2 separate regions of the Homo sapiens genome follow, and region 1 is linked to region 2. A link means that fine-mapping ties the variant in region 2 to the expression of a gene that starts in the linked region. Tissue or cell type: whole blood. Region 2 holds a variant in brackets; the other region holds the start of a gene. All regions are shown on one strand. Distances are from middle to middle.

Evidence for each region. PIP is the estimated chance that this variant, and not a neighbour inherited with it, causes the effect.
Region 1: it holds the start of CASP5, and the variant in region 2 is fine-mapped to the expression of CASP5 in whole blood (TOPMed, PIP above 0.99).

Annotation. Positions count from the first base shown.
Region 1 is chr11:105,019,006-105,027,005 of GRCh38, forward strand. CASP5 (caspase 5) reads right to left here and starts at 4,163. Exons shown (of 10, transcript NM_004347.5): 1 at 4,125-4,163. The coding sequence starts at 4,131. It overlaps CASP1 (caspase 1), which reads right to left. Exons shown (of 9, transcript NM_001257118.3): 8 at 7,837-7,946; 9 at 6,503-7,351. The coding sequence ends at 7,253. The region is part of intron 1 of LOC124902742 (a long non-coding RNA gene); the gene reads left to right.
Region 2 is chr11:104,983,506-104,991,772 of GRCh38, forward strand. No RefSeq gene overlaps it. Among named protein-coding and RNA genes, the nearest start is that of CASP4, 19 kb to the left of the region's middle. The variant C/T (reference allele first, on the strand shown) is at 3,433.

The sequences.
Region 1 (8,000 bases), 35 kb after region 2:
CAAAACCACTCAACTACATGGAAACTGAACAACCTGCTCCTGAATGACTACTGGGTACATAATGAAATGAAGGCAGAAATAAAGATGTTCTTTGAAACCAACGAGAACAAAGATACAACATACCAGAATCTCTGGGATGCATTCAAAGCAGTGTGTAGAGGGAAATTTATAGCACTAAATGCCCACAAGAGAAAGCAGGAAAGATCCAAAATTGACACCCTAACATCACAATTAAAGGAACTAGAAAAGCAAGAGCAAACACATTCAAAAGCTAGCAGAAGGCAAGAAATAACTAAAATCAGAGCAGAACTGAAGGAAATAGAGACACAAAAAACCCTTCAAAAAATTAATGAATCCAGGAGCTGGTTTTTTGAAAGGATCAACAAAATTCATAGACCGCTAGCAAGACTAATAAAGAAAAAAAGAGAGAAGAATCAAATAGACGCAATAAAAAATGATAATGGGGATATCACCACCGATCCCACAGAAATACAAACTACCATCAGAGAATACTACAAACACCTCTACGCAAATAAACTAGAAAATCTAGAAGAAATGGATAAGTTTCTGGACACATACACTCTCCCAAGACTAAACCAGGAAGAAGTTGAATCTCTGAATGGACCAATAACAGGATCTGAAATTGTGGCAATAATCAAAAGCTTACCAACTAAAAAGAGTCCAGGACCAGATGGATTCACAGCCGAATTCTACCAGAGGTACAAGGAGGAACTGGTACCATTCCTTCTGAAACTATTCCAATCAATAGAAAAAGAGGGAATCCTCCCTAACTCATTTTATGAGGCCAGCATCATCCTGATACCAAAGCCGGGCAGAGACACAACCAAAAAAGAGAATTTTAGACCAATATCCTTGATGAACATTGATGCAAAAATCCTCAATAAAATACTGGCAAACCGAATCTAGCAGCACATCAAAAAGCTTATCCACCATGATCAAGGGGGCTTCATCCCTGGGATGCAAGGCTGGTTCAATATACGCAAATCAATAAATATAATCCAGCATATAAACAGAACCAAAGACAAAAACCACGTGATTATCTCAATAGATGCAGAAAAGTTCTTTGACAAAATTCAACAACGCTTCATGCTAAAAACTCTCAATAAATTAGGTATTGATGGGATGTATTTCAAAATAATAAGAGCTATCTATGACAAACCCACAGCCAATATCATACTGAATGGGCAAAAACTGGAAGCATTCCCTTTGAAAACTGGCACAAGACAGGGATGCCCTCTCTCACCACTCCTATTCAACATAGTGTTGGAAGTTCTGGCCAGGGCGATCAGGCAGGAGAAGAAAATAAAGGGTATTCAATTAGGAAAAGTGGAAGTCAAATTGTCCCTGTTTGCAGACGACATGATTGTATATCTAGAAAACCCCATTGTCTCAGCCCAAAATCTCCTTAAGCTGATAAGCAACTTCAGCAAAGTCTCAGGATACAAAATCAATGTACAAAAATCACAAGCATTCTTATACACCAACAACAGACAAACAGAGAGCCAAATCATGAGTGAACTCCCATTCACAATTGCTTCAAAGAGAATAAAATACCTAGGAATCCAACTTACAAGGGATGTGAAGGACCTCTTCAAGGAGAACTACAAACCACTGCTCAAGGAAATAAAAGAGGGTACAAACAAATGGAAGAACATTCCATGCTCATGGGTAGGAAGAATCAATATCGTGAAAAATGGCCATACTGCCCAAGATAATTTACAGATTCAATGCCATCGCCATCAAGCTACCAATGACTTTCTTCACAGAATTGGAAAAAACTACTTTACAGTTCATATGGAACCAAAAAAGAGCCCGCATTGCCACGTCAATCCTGAGCCAAAAGAACAAAGCTGGAGGCATCACACTACCTGACTTCAAACTATACTACAAAGCTACAGTAACCAAAACAGCATGGTACTGGTACCAACACAGAGATATAGATCAATGGAACAGAACAGAGCCCTCAGAAATAATGCCGCATATCTACAACTATCTGATCTTTGACAAACCTGAGACAAACAAGCAATGCGGAAAGGATTCCCTATTTAATAAATGGTGCTGGGAAAACTGGCTAGCCATATGTAGAAAGCTGAAACTGGATCCCTTCCTTACACCTTATACAAAAATTAATTCAAGATGGATTAAAGACTTAAAAGTTAGACCTAAAACCATAAAAACCCTAGAAGAAAACCTAGACATTACCATTCAGGACATAGGCATGGGCAAGGACTTCATGTCTAAAACACCAAAAGCAATGGCAACAGAAGCCAAAATTGACAAATGGGATCTAATTAAACTAAAGAGCTTCTACACAGCAAAAGAAACTACCGTCAGAGTGAACAGGCAACCTACAAAATGGGAGAAAATTTTCGCAACCTACTCGTCTGACAAAGGGCTAATATCCAGAATCTACAATGAACTCAAACAAATTTACAAGAAAAAAACAAACAACCCCATCAAAAAGTGGGCGAAGGACATGAACAGACACTTCTCAAAAGAAGACATTTATGCAGCCAAAAAACACATGAAAAAGTGCTCACCATCACTGGCCATCAGAGAAATGCAAATCAAAACCACAATGAGATACCATCTCACACGAGTTAGAATGGCAATCATTAAAAAGTCAGGAAACAACAGGTGCTGGAGAGGATGTGGAAAAATAGGAACACTTTTACACTGTTGGTGGGACTGTAAACTAGTTCAACCATTGTGGAAGTCAGTGTGGCGATTCCACAGGGATCTAGAACTAGAAATACCATTTGACCCAGCCATCCCTTTACTGGGTATATACCCAAAGGACTATAAATCATGCTGCTATAAAGACACATGCACACGTATGTTTATTGTGGCATTATTCACAATAGCAAAGACTTGGAACCAACCCAAATGTCCAACAATGATAGACTGGATTAAGAAAATGTGGCACATATACACCATGGAATATTATGCAGCCATAAAAAATGATGAGTTCATGTCCTTTGTAGGGACATGGATGAAATTGGAAATCATCATTCTCAGTAAACTATCACAAGAACAAAAAACCAAACACCGCATATTCTCACTCATAGGTGGGAACTGAACAATGAGAACACATGGACACAGGAAGGGGAACATCACACTCTGGAGCCTGTTGTGGGGTGGGGGGAGGGGGGAGGGATAGCATTGGGAGGTATACCTAATGCTAGATGACGAGTTAGTGGGTGCAGCCCACCAGCATGTCACATGTATACATATGTAACTAACCTGCACATTGTGCACATGTACCCTAAAACTTAAAGTATAATAATAATAAATAAATAAATTAAAGAAAAAAAAAGACTGCAGATTATTCATATATGTTATAAGGTTTAGAAAGCACTGATCTATTCCAGTTTCTTCCTTTTTCCAGTGAGGAGAATGAAACCAAAGACGCAATATGACCTGCTGGAATACGAGCTGCTTAAGTAGCCCAGGACTCCAACTCATAGGCTTTTTTAGCTTCTGTGTATAAGACAGTTGGCCTGAAAGTAGTGTGCAGTATGGACTGAAGGGTTAAGTTTTTGGGAGTGGGAAGACAGTTAAAAGTCTATGATAGCAACCTAAGATATATTACATTATAAGAGTTAGTACCAGGACTACATAGAAAGGTGGAAAAATGCAATCACTTTAAACAGACCAATAAGATAATTCAAGATAAGAGATGACAACACGTTGAGAACACAGAGGCTCTCAGATCTGATTGTGGGGAGAAGGTTCATAGTCTGGAGGATTAATTTGGAATCAAGAGGAAGCAGAGAAGATTTCAGAGTGCATTTAGAAATTTCCGGAGTTTTCTCACACAAATAACTTACTCTGTCTTTCCTTACTCTCTCTTTGATTACCAGAAGCTGAAAGAAAGGAATTAACCTTTTTCTGGCTTGAAAACATCTAGAGAACATACTCTCCTTCAGTGTCTCTACACAGTCTCAGGATTCAAACTACATACCACCAATAAGAGAAAGATTCAGCATGCACACTATTGGTTGATTTCCCTTTTGGTATTTCTGCCTGTCACATAGCAATAAATCAAGATTTTTCTAAGACCTGAGTACCCAGCTGCTAGTCAGAAAAGGGCCCAGACTCACCAGCCATAGCTAACAGCCTCTGTCTCTTTGTACAGCACTGGAAAGTGCCTCAGACTCAGAGATAAAATACACTAGGTACTTCCTTATTGCAGGGAGTGGGGACAAGTGATTACAGATTATGGGAAGTTGCTTCTGGGAACCTATAGTTTCATCATTGGGAAGTGCCCTGTAGTAAGCAAATTGGCTTTCTATTCTTGAACTCTAGATTCTTCCCTGGGGAAAAAAAATGCAAATGACAAAACATTGTTTTGTGGGTTGAAACCTCAGCCTGGTTTTCTTTTTCCTTTTCTCTCTCCATAGCCCCACATCTTCTTTTATTCATCCCTCTCTTCTGATCTGTCAGTTTTTCTACCTCTGCTCGTCTAAAAACACATGTCCTGAATGAGTAAAATCTAACTAGTTTCCTTGCATCTTCCCATAAGAATTAACCAAATATTTTGTATATCTTGGGTTTCTTTATTTTTCATTTCAATTTTTATTTGAGTTTCAGGGGTACATATGCAGGTTTGTTACAAGAGTATATTAGGTGATGCAGAGGTTTGTAGTACAATTTAACCTATTACCTAGGTAGTGAGAATAGCACCCAGTACATAGTTTTTCGGCTCTTGCCTTCTTCCTTCATTCCTCCCTCTGGTATTTCCCTGTGTCTGTTATTCCCGTCTTTATGTCCATGTGTACACAATATTTAGCTAGAACTTACAAGTGAGATTATGTGATATTTGGTTTTCTGTTTCTGCATTAATTTGCTTAGAATAATGGCCTCCAGTTGCATCCATGTTGCTGCAAAGGGCAGGGTTTCATTTTTATGGCTGTGTAACATTCCATAGTAGCAGTGTACCACATTTTTTTAAATCCAATCCACCATTGATGGACACCTGGGTTGATTCTATTATTTTGGCTACAGTGAATAGTGCTGCGACAAACATTTGAAAGCACATGTCTTTTTGATAGAACAGTACATTTTCCTTTGAGGATTCAGTCAGTAATGGGATGCTTGGACAAATGATAGTTCTTTTTTTAGTTATTTGGTAAATCTCCAAACTGCTTTTCAAAAAGATGGATGCATCACATTACTGGACTTCAAGCTATGCTAGAAGTCTACAGTAACCACAACAGCAAGGTATTCGTACAAAAAAAACAGACACAAAGCCCAATGGAACAGAATAGAGAACCCCAAAATAAAGCCACACACCTATAACCAACTGATACTCAACAAAGTCAACAACAACAGCAAAAAGAAACAAGGAAAGGATTGTTTATTCAATAAATGTATTTCTTGTTTAAACTGTGCTGAGGAATCATGATGGAGTCTTCTCCTCCCCATCTCCCTGTCATCTTACGCTTTGATTGGAGACAGTTCTGAAGGAATCCTCTTATCTACTTCCTGGAATGCTGTTCTTCAACTGACTAAAACTGCTTTAACAGTTAATTTTTACTTAGGGTGGCAATTCACTTCTCCTTTTTGATATTCTCTGAGCAAAGACTGATCACAGATGTAGTCTCAGGTTGTAGTAGAGTATGCATGATAACACAGAAGAGATATGCCCAGAGAAACAGTTAATAAAAGGTAAAAAAAAAAAAAAAGAGAGAGAGAGAGAGACTGTAATGTGTTCAACTATGAAGGTGTTTAAGAAGTCAGAAATTAACTCTCATTTAATCTGTTAAATATTAGAAAAAAACATATTTGCAAGTAAGGGGTAGTTCTTCGAATCCTCCCTAAATCTTAACATCCCTGAGTGCATGATTTCACCCCAAACTCGTTTTCTCTGCACCATGCCAGGACTTCACTGTGCACACCATGCATCCTAGAGTTTCTTCAGGGTGTCAGGCACCATCTGCCAAGCGCTTCATTTTGGATGGCTGTCTTATCTTTTCAAGAAGTCTGTGAACTACTGAGGGTTGATTCAAAACTTACTTTGTCTTAAATACTTTTGCAAAGGGTAGAAACATGCAAGTTCATGGATTTGTCAGTAGCAAACTGTGGGATTTGGGAAAAGTTCTTTATCACACTACACTGTCGCTGTCATAACTAGCTGTCTTCCCCCGTCTCTCCTGCTGAGCTCTAAATTATTTGAAGTCAGATACCTGCTGTAACTTATATCACATCCCCAAAGCAGAAAGCCCAGCAAACGATTTTTCTTTTTTTAAAAATGGCACAAAATAAATTTTTGTTCAAGAAAGTAATTAATAACATTGCTATGTTTGTAAGTCTGATTTTCTTTTTTAAATTTTTATATTTTATTTTACTTTAAGTTCTGGGAAAGAAAGGTGCCAATAGCCAGTTTGGGTCTGACAGATTAAGTCAAACACTCTAAATTCCTTAGTCACTCTAAGTTCCAGTCCCTGTTTCTTCAGTGTGGGAGAAAAATGAGGACAAGTTTTCATTTTTCTACCAGATTTATTATTTCAAAAAAGTTTATTATTCAGCAGACATAATTCCAAAAACCTTTACAGAAGGATCTCTTCACTTCCTATGAGAAAAAGAAATAATTAAAAAAAAAAACATAGGAAAGAATTTTGTTAAAGACATGCAAGTTATAAAGTTATACCACCAATGGGAACATACACAATTTTAAAAGGAAAGACCACATGCTATGTTTAAATATACCCTGCTGAGGTGAAGGAGAGAAACATCCAAAAGTGAGGGTTTGTAGTCTTACGGCCACTTCTAGGCCAATATCAGATGAATCTCAAAAGGGGTCTAAATGAAAAACTTTGGGAGAAGAGCAACGTGCTCTGCACTGACCAGAAGAAAGGCATTACTTCAGTATTTTCTGTATATGGCTTGATTATCCCTTATCCAAAATGCATGCTACCAGAAGTATTTCAAATTTCAGATATTTTTGTATATTGGAATTCAGCTGTATACTTACTGGTTTAGCATCCCTAATCCAAAAACCTATAATTTGAAATGTTTCAATAAACATTTCCTTTGAATATCATGTGGGCGCTCACACAGTGTTGGATTTTAGAGCATTTCAAAATTCAAATTTTTGGATTAAGGATTCTCAGCCTGTAAACCTAGAGTTCTTGACTCAAATGGACTTTCAGTACCCTTTCCTCAACCTTCCCACACTCCCGACCATACACATGTACCTGCCCACAGACATTCATACAGTTTCCTTATTTTAATGTCCTGGGAAGAGGTAGAAACATCTTGTCAAAGTCACTCTTTCAGTGGTGGGCATCTGCGCTCTACCATCTGGCTGCTCAAATGAAAATCGAACCTAAAAGAGTAAGGAAAGTCTGTAGCCCTTTTTTTTGCTGAGTTTTTTTTTTCAAGAATTTCTTGAGTTATGCCAAAAAACTACAACAAATATAGCAAAATAAGTGACAAAAACAAAAAGTACTTCCATCTGCAACAAGTATAACCATATATGTATGTAAGCATTGAATGACCCTCCTCAGGGCATTTTAAATCTGCTGCTGGATCTAATAGCCATGAGAGACACAGGTAAATTAGAGTCCATTCATTTGTCTCTGCAGGGCAGGAGCGGGGTGAAACTAAATGATTGTTTTCTCAAGGCTGTGGGTCTTAATAGATTGGATTAGGCTCCTGGGTTTGTCCACTCTCCAAAGAACTCCAAAACTCTTTTGGAAAGAAGAGCATTATTGGAAGATAAACTTGTCTGGATCTGCTTTCTATGCTTCCAATTGCAATAGCCAAGCATTCAGGGAAGTAGAGTGAAAATAGCATCCACTAGCATCTTACCTTGCGGAAAATTTCCTCCACATCACAGGAACAGGCATATTCTTGCATATGTTCAATGAGTCTTCCAATAAAAACAGAGCCCATTGTGGGATGTCTCCAAGAAACATTATCTATGGATAAAGCACATTTCAAATCTCAAGACTGGCTCTTGCCTGAAGAAAGAG
Region 2 (8,267 bases):
ATGGACAAAATATAGAGGGTAAAAAAGCACTTTTTTTAAAAAAAAGAATCAGACAATTTTGGTTTGAGTTCTATTTATCAGTAGGATATCAATCAAAATATATAGGCTGCAAATATCACCAGGTTTACTATTAACTTTCTGCCCAATGTAGTCAACAGGTAGCTCTGATCATTGTACTTTTTAGAGAACTGGAATAATGGAAGATCCATTTTGACACATGGCTTTACCATGGCAGAGAAATGGTAAATAACAAATGGTGTTCTGGTTTCCAACCCATTATCTCAAATGGAAGCTCACATACTACCTCTGCTTATGTGGCATTAGTGAAAGTAAGTTATGTAGCTACAGCAACCTTGAAAGGAGATGGGTACAATCCTACCACATTCCAAGAGGCAGGCCCATGAGATGAGTACCTTTATTTCTCCCATTTTACAGAAGAAAATCAGACTTCAGGCTGTAGAATAACCTCTGAAATCACACAATTGGAAAGTAGCCAAGCTGGAATTTTCATCAATGTGTCTAAGAAATGAAAACCTATGCTTTTTGGCACAGCATTTCTTTACCTTTTCATGTGAAGTAGGCTTTACAGTAGATGCTATGTGCTATTGTCTGAATCTTTATTTTCCTTCTAAAATTCATATGGTTAAAATCCTAACCCCCAAGGTTATGGCATTTGGAGGTGGGGCCTTTGGGAGGTGATTAGGTTATGAGAGCAGAGCCTTCATAACTAGAATAAGTGCTTTTATAAAAGAGACCCCAGAGAGGTAGCTCTTTACTACTACCATGTGAGGACAAAGTTATAAGATGCCATACAGAAATTAGAAAGTGGGCCCTCACCAGATCTAGATCTTCCAATGCCTTGATCCTGGACTTCCCAGCCTCTAGAATTGTGAGAAATAAATTTCAATCATTTATAAGCTACTCAGTTTATGGCATTTTGTTCCAGCTGTCCAAATGGAATAAAATAGTAGATACTAACAAATACTAGCTCTTGTTATCCTTAACCCTTGTATTTTCTACTGATGATAATGATAATTAAGAATGTAAGAATTAAATAACTATACAAAACAAAACACAAAAGAAAGAGAAAATTTTATCTTCTTAGGACAATGTGTGTTCATCTCTACCTAAAAGAAGGTTGGTAGACTGTCTTTTTGGAGATATTGCTTGTTAGTAATGAATATACTATAGTCCATAATGTAAGGTATGCCCATTATCAGTGGAGATTTTAACATGCTTAAGAAACCATTATATAAGTCCAAAATATTAATTTAGTTTTGAGAAATATAACTTTTATAAGAAATAGAATATTTGCATTAATATAGTGAGAGTATTTTCTTTCAGCAACCTGGCCAAAAGTATAATCAGAAGAATGCTAAGTGGACATAGAATCAAATGAGGGAGAATGAGATAAATCAATTTGTAATATCATCAAGCTAATAACTCCAACCTAAGGGAAAAACTTCTGCTTATGGATGAAAGTATCAAAGTCCGTTGATTACACAACCCTTTGCATACTTTCACCATCACTAAATGCGTTGTTATCATTTGGCTAAGGCTCTCTCCCACAAAGTGAAGAGGAATGGGTACTGTCACCCCTGCCTCTGTGACTCTTTTTTCTTATTTCAATGTATGTCTAGACATAGACTTTCCTCGAATGTCTGCTTATGTTCCTTCAGTTTGCCAAGTCTCTTAGGCTTCATACTTGTTATTAATATAACATTTCATACCTTTGCACTATCATATTTATTGATTTCATATTTAAATTTCAGAATAAAGTAATTTTCCACTGTTTTCAGACTTACTAGGATAATCTCATATATGATAAGAATAACAATGATGATGATACAGAACCAAGTTTAAATATTACTCCAGAATTACTTCCAGGGGCTTGCAATGTCAGTGGATGAAATATGTGTCAAAAATTGGAGCAAAATAATGTTTTTCCTAATTAATAAGTGCATATTCTTTTTACTTTGAAATTTCCTGTATAGATCATTTCAAAGGTGGTTTCCCAAACTCAGTGAGCAATCACAGTACCTGCTTTTAACTTCTTATTGCTGAAAGAGGCATTGAAGTGGGTCAGAGAGACAGTCTTGAATGGTAGACACCAATCTTCCCCTATCCCCTGGCAGAGGCCATGCAGCAGTATGGAGAGTCTGTGTGTTGGAGGAGGGAGAGTACAGCATCTGAGGGACATTACATTGAACTCAGTGTTGCATGTCATAGTTGAGAACAAAGCTGTGATAGGCTCAGCCAGTGCCTGTGCATGGTGGGAGCATTTGAACCAGCCCTAGCCAGAGAGGAATCATCTATCCCAGTGGTTGAAACTTGAGTTGCTCAGCAAGCCTCGTCACTGCTAGCCAAAGTGCTCTGGGGTCCTTGGTAGACTTGAAAGGCAGTCTAGGATTCAAGAACTACAATTACTAGGGAACTCCTTGTGCTGGGCTAGGCTCAGAGTCATTAACCTGGAAAGTTACTAGCCAGGTGGCTAAGGGGGTGTTTGTCTCACCTCCCGGCAAACCCCAGGCTGCACAGCTCACAGCAATGAAAGTGATTTCTTTTTTCTGCTTAAGAAAAGGAGAGAGAAGAGTAAAGAAGACTTTGTATTGCACCTTGGATATTAGCTCACCCATAGTAGGACAGGGCACCAGGTAAAGATGTGAGATACCCACCCCAGGCCCTGGCTCTCAGATGACATTTCTAGACATACCCTAGCCAATCGAGAACCCAGTGACATAAAGGGAAGGATCCAGTCCTGGCAGAATTTGTCACCTGCTGACTAAAGAGTCTTTGTGTCCTTAATAATCAATACTCAGGTAGTATGCAATGCGCCTTGGGCTCTAAGATGTCCTGAATTCAGCTGTGATCCAACACATTCCCAGCTGTGGTGACTATGCTGAAAGACTCCTACAGTTTGATGAAAGCAGGGGAGAAAGTAAAGGGGACTTTGCCTTGCACTTTAGGTACCAGCTTGGCCACAGTGGGTTAGAGCAATAATCAAGGTCTTAGGGTCTCTGAGTCTAGGCCTAGGCTCTTGGATAGCATTTCTGGACCTGTCATGGGCCACAGGGGAGCCCACTGCCCTGAAGGGTGAGTCTCAGGCCTGGTAGCATTAATCACAAACTGACAGATGAGCCCTGAGGCTTTAAGTGAACATCAGTGGTGGCCTGGTAGAATGCCCCATGGGCCTGTGGTGCTGGTGGCCACAGGGAAAGTCTCCTCTGCCTGTGGGAAGGGAAGGGAAAAGCAGGAAGGACTTTGTATTGTGGTTTAAATGCCAGCTTAGCTACAGTAGAATAGAACAACAGGCAAATTACTAAGATTTTTTACTCCAATTCCTGGCTCCCAAATAGCATTTCTGGGCCTGTAGAGAACCTGGGGGAGCTCACCACCTTGAATGGAAGAACACAAACCTGTCTGGCTTTGCCA[C/T]CTGCTGATCACAGAGCCCTAGGGCCTTGAGTGAACAGAGGTTGTAGCCAGTTAGTGATTACAGAGCATCTTGGGAGAGACCCAGTGCTGTGCTGGCTTCAGGTCTGAAATAGCGGTGGTGGTGACAGGGGTGCTTGTGTCTCTCCACCCCAGTTCCAGATGGCTCAGCACAGAAAGAGAGACTCTTTTGTTTGGGACAAAATAAGGAAAAAGAACAAGCGCCCATCTGATAATCTAGAGAATTCTTCCAAAATTCTATGTCTGTAACTGTCCAGAGAATTCAAAATAGCTGTTTTAATGAAACTCAAAGAAATTCAAGATAACACAGTGAAGGAACTCAGAATTCTATCAGGTAAATTCAACAAAGAGATTGAAATAATTAGAATGAATCAAGCAGAAACTCTGGAATTGAACAATATAATTGATATACTAAAGAATGCGTCAGAGTCCCTTAATAGTAGAATTGATCAAGCAGAATAAAGAATTAATGAGCTTGAAGACAGTTTATTTGGAAGTATACAGCCACAGGAAATGTAGGAAGGAAAAAAAACAATAAAGCATGACTACAAGATCTAGAAAAGAGGCTCAAAGGGATAAATCTAAAAGTTATTGGCATTAAAGATGAAGTAGAGAAAGAGATAGGGATAGAAAGTTTATTTCAAAGGAGTAATATCAGAAAACTTCCCAAGCCTAAAGAAAAATATCAACCTTCAAGTACAAGAAAGTTATAGAACACCAAGCAGATTTAACCCAAAGAAGACTACCTCAAGACATTTGATAATCAAACTTCCGAAGGTCAAAGATAAAGACAGATTTCTAAAAGCAGCAAGAGAAAGAAACAAATAATATACTCCAATATATCTAGCAGCAGACTTTTCAGTGGAAACCTTACAGGCCAGAAGAGAGTGGCGTGACATAATTAAAATGCCAAAGGAAAAAACTTTGACCCTAAAAAAGCACATCCAGTGAAAATGTCCTTCAAGCAAAAAAGATGAATAAAAACTTTCCCAGACAAACAAAAAAAAGATGAGGGCTTTTATCAATGCCAGACATGTTCTACAAGAAATGCTAAACCAAGTTCTTCAATCTGAAAAAAAGGACTTAAATGAGCAAGAAAGAATCATTTGAAGATACAAAACTCACTGGTAATAGTAAGAGCACAGAAAAACACAGAATATTATAACGCTGTAATTGTGATGTGTAAACATCTCTTAATTAGAAAGACTAAACCAATCAAAAATAATAACTACGACTACTTTTCAAGATGCAGACAGTACATGAAGACATCAAGAGAAACAACAAAAAGTTAAAAATTGAGATGATGCAACTAAAGTATACAGTTTTTATTAGTTTTCTTTTTCCATGGTTGTTTGTTTATGCAATCAGTATTTAGCTGTTATCAGTTTAAAATAATGAGTTATAAGATAGTATTTGCAGACCTCATGGCATCCATACAATGGATACTCAAAAAGTAAAAAGCAAAAAATTGAATCATACTACAAGAGAAAATCACCTTTGCTAAAAGCAAGACAGAAGAAAAGGAAAAAAGGAAGATAAGATCATAAAACAAGCAGACAACAAATAACAAAATGGCAGGAGTAATAAAAGACATTTAAATTAAAAAGAAAGAAGTCAAATTATCTTTGTTTGCAGATCATATTTTCTTCTTATTTGGAAATCGTAAAGACTCCACCAGAAAACTATTAGAACAGATAAACAAATTTGATAAAGTTACAGGAGATAAAATCAATATACAAAAATCTGTAGCATTTCTACATGCCAACACTAAACAATTCAAAAAAGAAATTTAAAAAGTAATCCCATTTATAGCAGCCTTAAATAAATGCCTAGGATTTAACTTCACCAAACAAGGGAAAGACCTCTACAATGAAAACTATAATACACTGATGAAAGAAATTGAAGAGGACGCAAAAATAAAATGATATTCCATGCTCATGAATGGAAAGATCTAATATTGTTAAAATGTACAAACTACCCAAAGCAACCTACAGACTGAATGCCATCTCTGTCCAAATGCCATCTCTGTCCAATAAAAAGAATGCCCAACAACATTCTTTACAGAAATAGGTGAAATGAGTCTAAAATTTATATTGAACTGCAAAAGACCCAGAATAGCCAAAGCTATCCTGAGCAAAAGGAACAAAACTAGAGGAATCACATTACATAATTCCAAATTATACTACAGAACTATAATAATTAAAACAGCATGGTACTGGCATAAAAACAGATGCATAGACCAATGGAACAAAATAGAGAACACAGAAACAAATTTACACACCTACAGTGAGCTCGTTTTTGACAAAGGTGTCAAGAATATACCCTGGGGAAAAGATAGCCTTTTCAATAAATGGTGCTGGGAAAACAGGATATCCATTTGCAGAAGAATGAAACTATAACCTTATCTCTTGCCACATACAAAAACAAAATCAAAACTGATGAAAGATTTAAATCTAAGACCTCAAATTATGAAACTACTAAAATAAAACATTAGGGAAACTATTAGAACATTGGTGTGGGCAAAAATTTTTTGAGTAATACCCCACAAGCACAAGAAACAAAAGCAAAAATGGACAAATAGAATCATATCATGTTAAAAAGCATCTGTGGAATAAAGAAAATAATCAAGGTGAAAGACAACCAACAGCATGGGAGAAAATATTTGCAAACTCTCCAAATGAAAAGGGATTAATAACCAAAATTTATAAGGAGCTGAAACAACTCTATAAGAAAAAAATCTAATGATCTGATTTAAAAATGGGTAAAAGAAAAAAATAAAAATGGGTAGAAGATTTGGATAGATATTTCTCAAAAGAAAACATAAAAACAACAAACAGGCTTATGAAAAGATATTCAGCACCATTGATGATCAGAGAAATGCAAATCAAAACTCCAATGATACATCATCTCACCCCAGTTAAAATGACTTTTATCCAAATGATAGGCAATAAACAGTGCTGGTGAGGATGCAGAGAAAAGGAAACATTCATACACTGTTGGGAATGTAAATTAGTACAACCACTATGAAGAAGAGTTTGGAGCCTTCTCAAAAAAAACTAAAGATAAAGCTACCATATAATCCAGCAATTCCACTTCGGGGTATGTAGCCAGAAGAAAGAAAATCAGTATATTGAAGAGACATCTGCACTCCCATATTTTTTTGCAGCACTGTTTACATCAGCTAAGATTTGGAAGCAGTCTAAGTGTCCATCAACAGATGAATGGATAAAAAAAATATGGTACATATACACAATGCAGTACTATTCAGCCATAAGAAAGACTGAGATTCTGTCATTTGCAACAACATGGATGGAATGGGAGATCATTGCATTAAGCAAAACAAGCCAGCCACAGAAAGACAAACATCACATGTTTTCATGTATTTGTGGAATCTAAAAATAAAAACAATTGAACTTATGAGTATAGAGAGTAGAAAGTTGATTACCAGAAGCTGGAAGGGTAGTGGAGGGTTGCAGGAGGAGGTGGGAATGGTTAATAGGTACAAAATTTATTAGAATGAATGAATAAGACCTAGTAATTGACAGCACCCCAGGTGACTATAGTCAAAATAATTTAATTGCGCATTAAAAAATAACTAAAAGGGGATAATTTGATTATAACACAAAGGATAAATGCTTGAGGGTATAAATATTCTATTTTTTCATGATGTGATTATTATACATTGAATGTCTGTATCAATATATCCCATGTATCTCATAAGTGCATTCATTATTTGTGATAACACCAAAATTAAAAGTTAAAAAGCATCTCATACTTTTCTCTGTTGTTATACATATTCTCCAACTAAAAATGATGGTGGGATTATGGATCAAAAGATTACAAGGCAAAAGATTACAGGGACCATGTCTTTAAAATTAAAACTTTCAAAATATGTGTAAATACTTGCTAATGTGAGTATATGTCAACACTATTTACTTCTTTCACTGGATGTTAGGGAAAAAAGGAACGGGGTGGATCCTTCTGGGTAAAGGAAAATAGTTTCACTAAATTCTTGTCTTTATTTCAGAAAATGCCTGCCCTTCAAGGCAGATAAGAGAGTATTTTTTTAATATATTTTAAGTCTAATTTTCCCCTTTTAAGTCAAATTCTTCTTTTCTCTTTGGGTGACATTACTGATTATTATTATCTCCAATGGAAGATAGCTACATATATGAATGGAGGGAAAGAGAAGTCGTTTGGAAATGAAAGACTAACAGAAAAAGAACTCATATTATTTGAACCCAATTCATTTTTACTTTGATTCCTAGTTACGAATTCTAATTCTATCCAACCTTAGTTTTAAGAGTCTTGGCAAAGAATTGTAACACAGGCAATTTTGGCTTCCTGTATGCCATTCAACCTGCTGTCCATTCTGCAAGCCATCTTTCTTAATTATAAATCTGACTATAAATAACGCCCCTGTTTAATAATATTCTAAAATAATTTACACTGTCCCCAGGACAAATAATTACTCCTATATATTTCATCAGTACATCTAATCTTTTCAAACCATACTTCAACTTTTACATTGCAACCATACAATTTTTTTAATTCCCAAATTTGTCTTATCGTTTTGCACTCTCAATTTTGGTGCGTGATTTTTCCTCCCCCTTATAAAATTCTCTTTTTGATATAACAAATTTATCATAATAAAAGCATGCACACTTACATGCAAACATAAGTCTCTGTGTTCTGTTTTCCTGTCAATTTTTAACACCGTTAATAACTCAAATTAAACTCCTATTTTTCATTGTACCACCACTAGTCTCTAAATTGCTGGGAGTTCTCACTCCACTGTTGCCTGCACAACCCTGGAA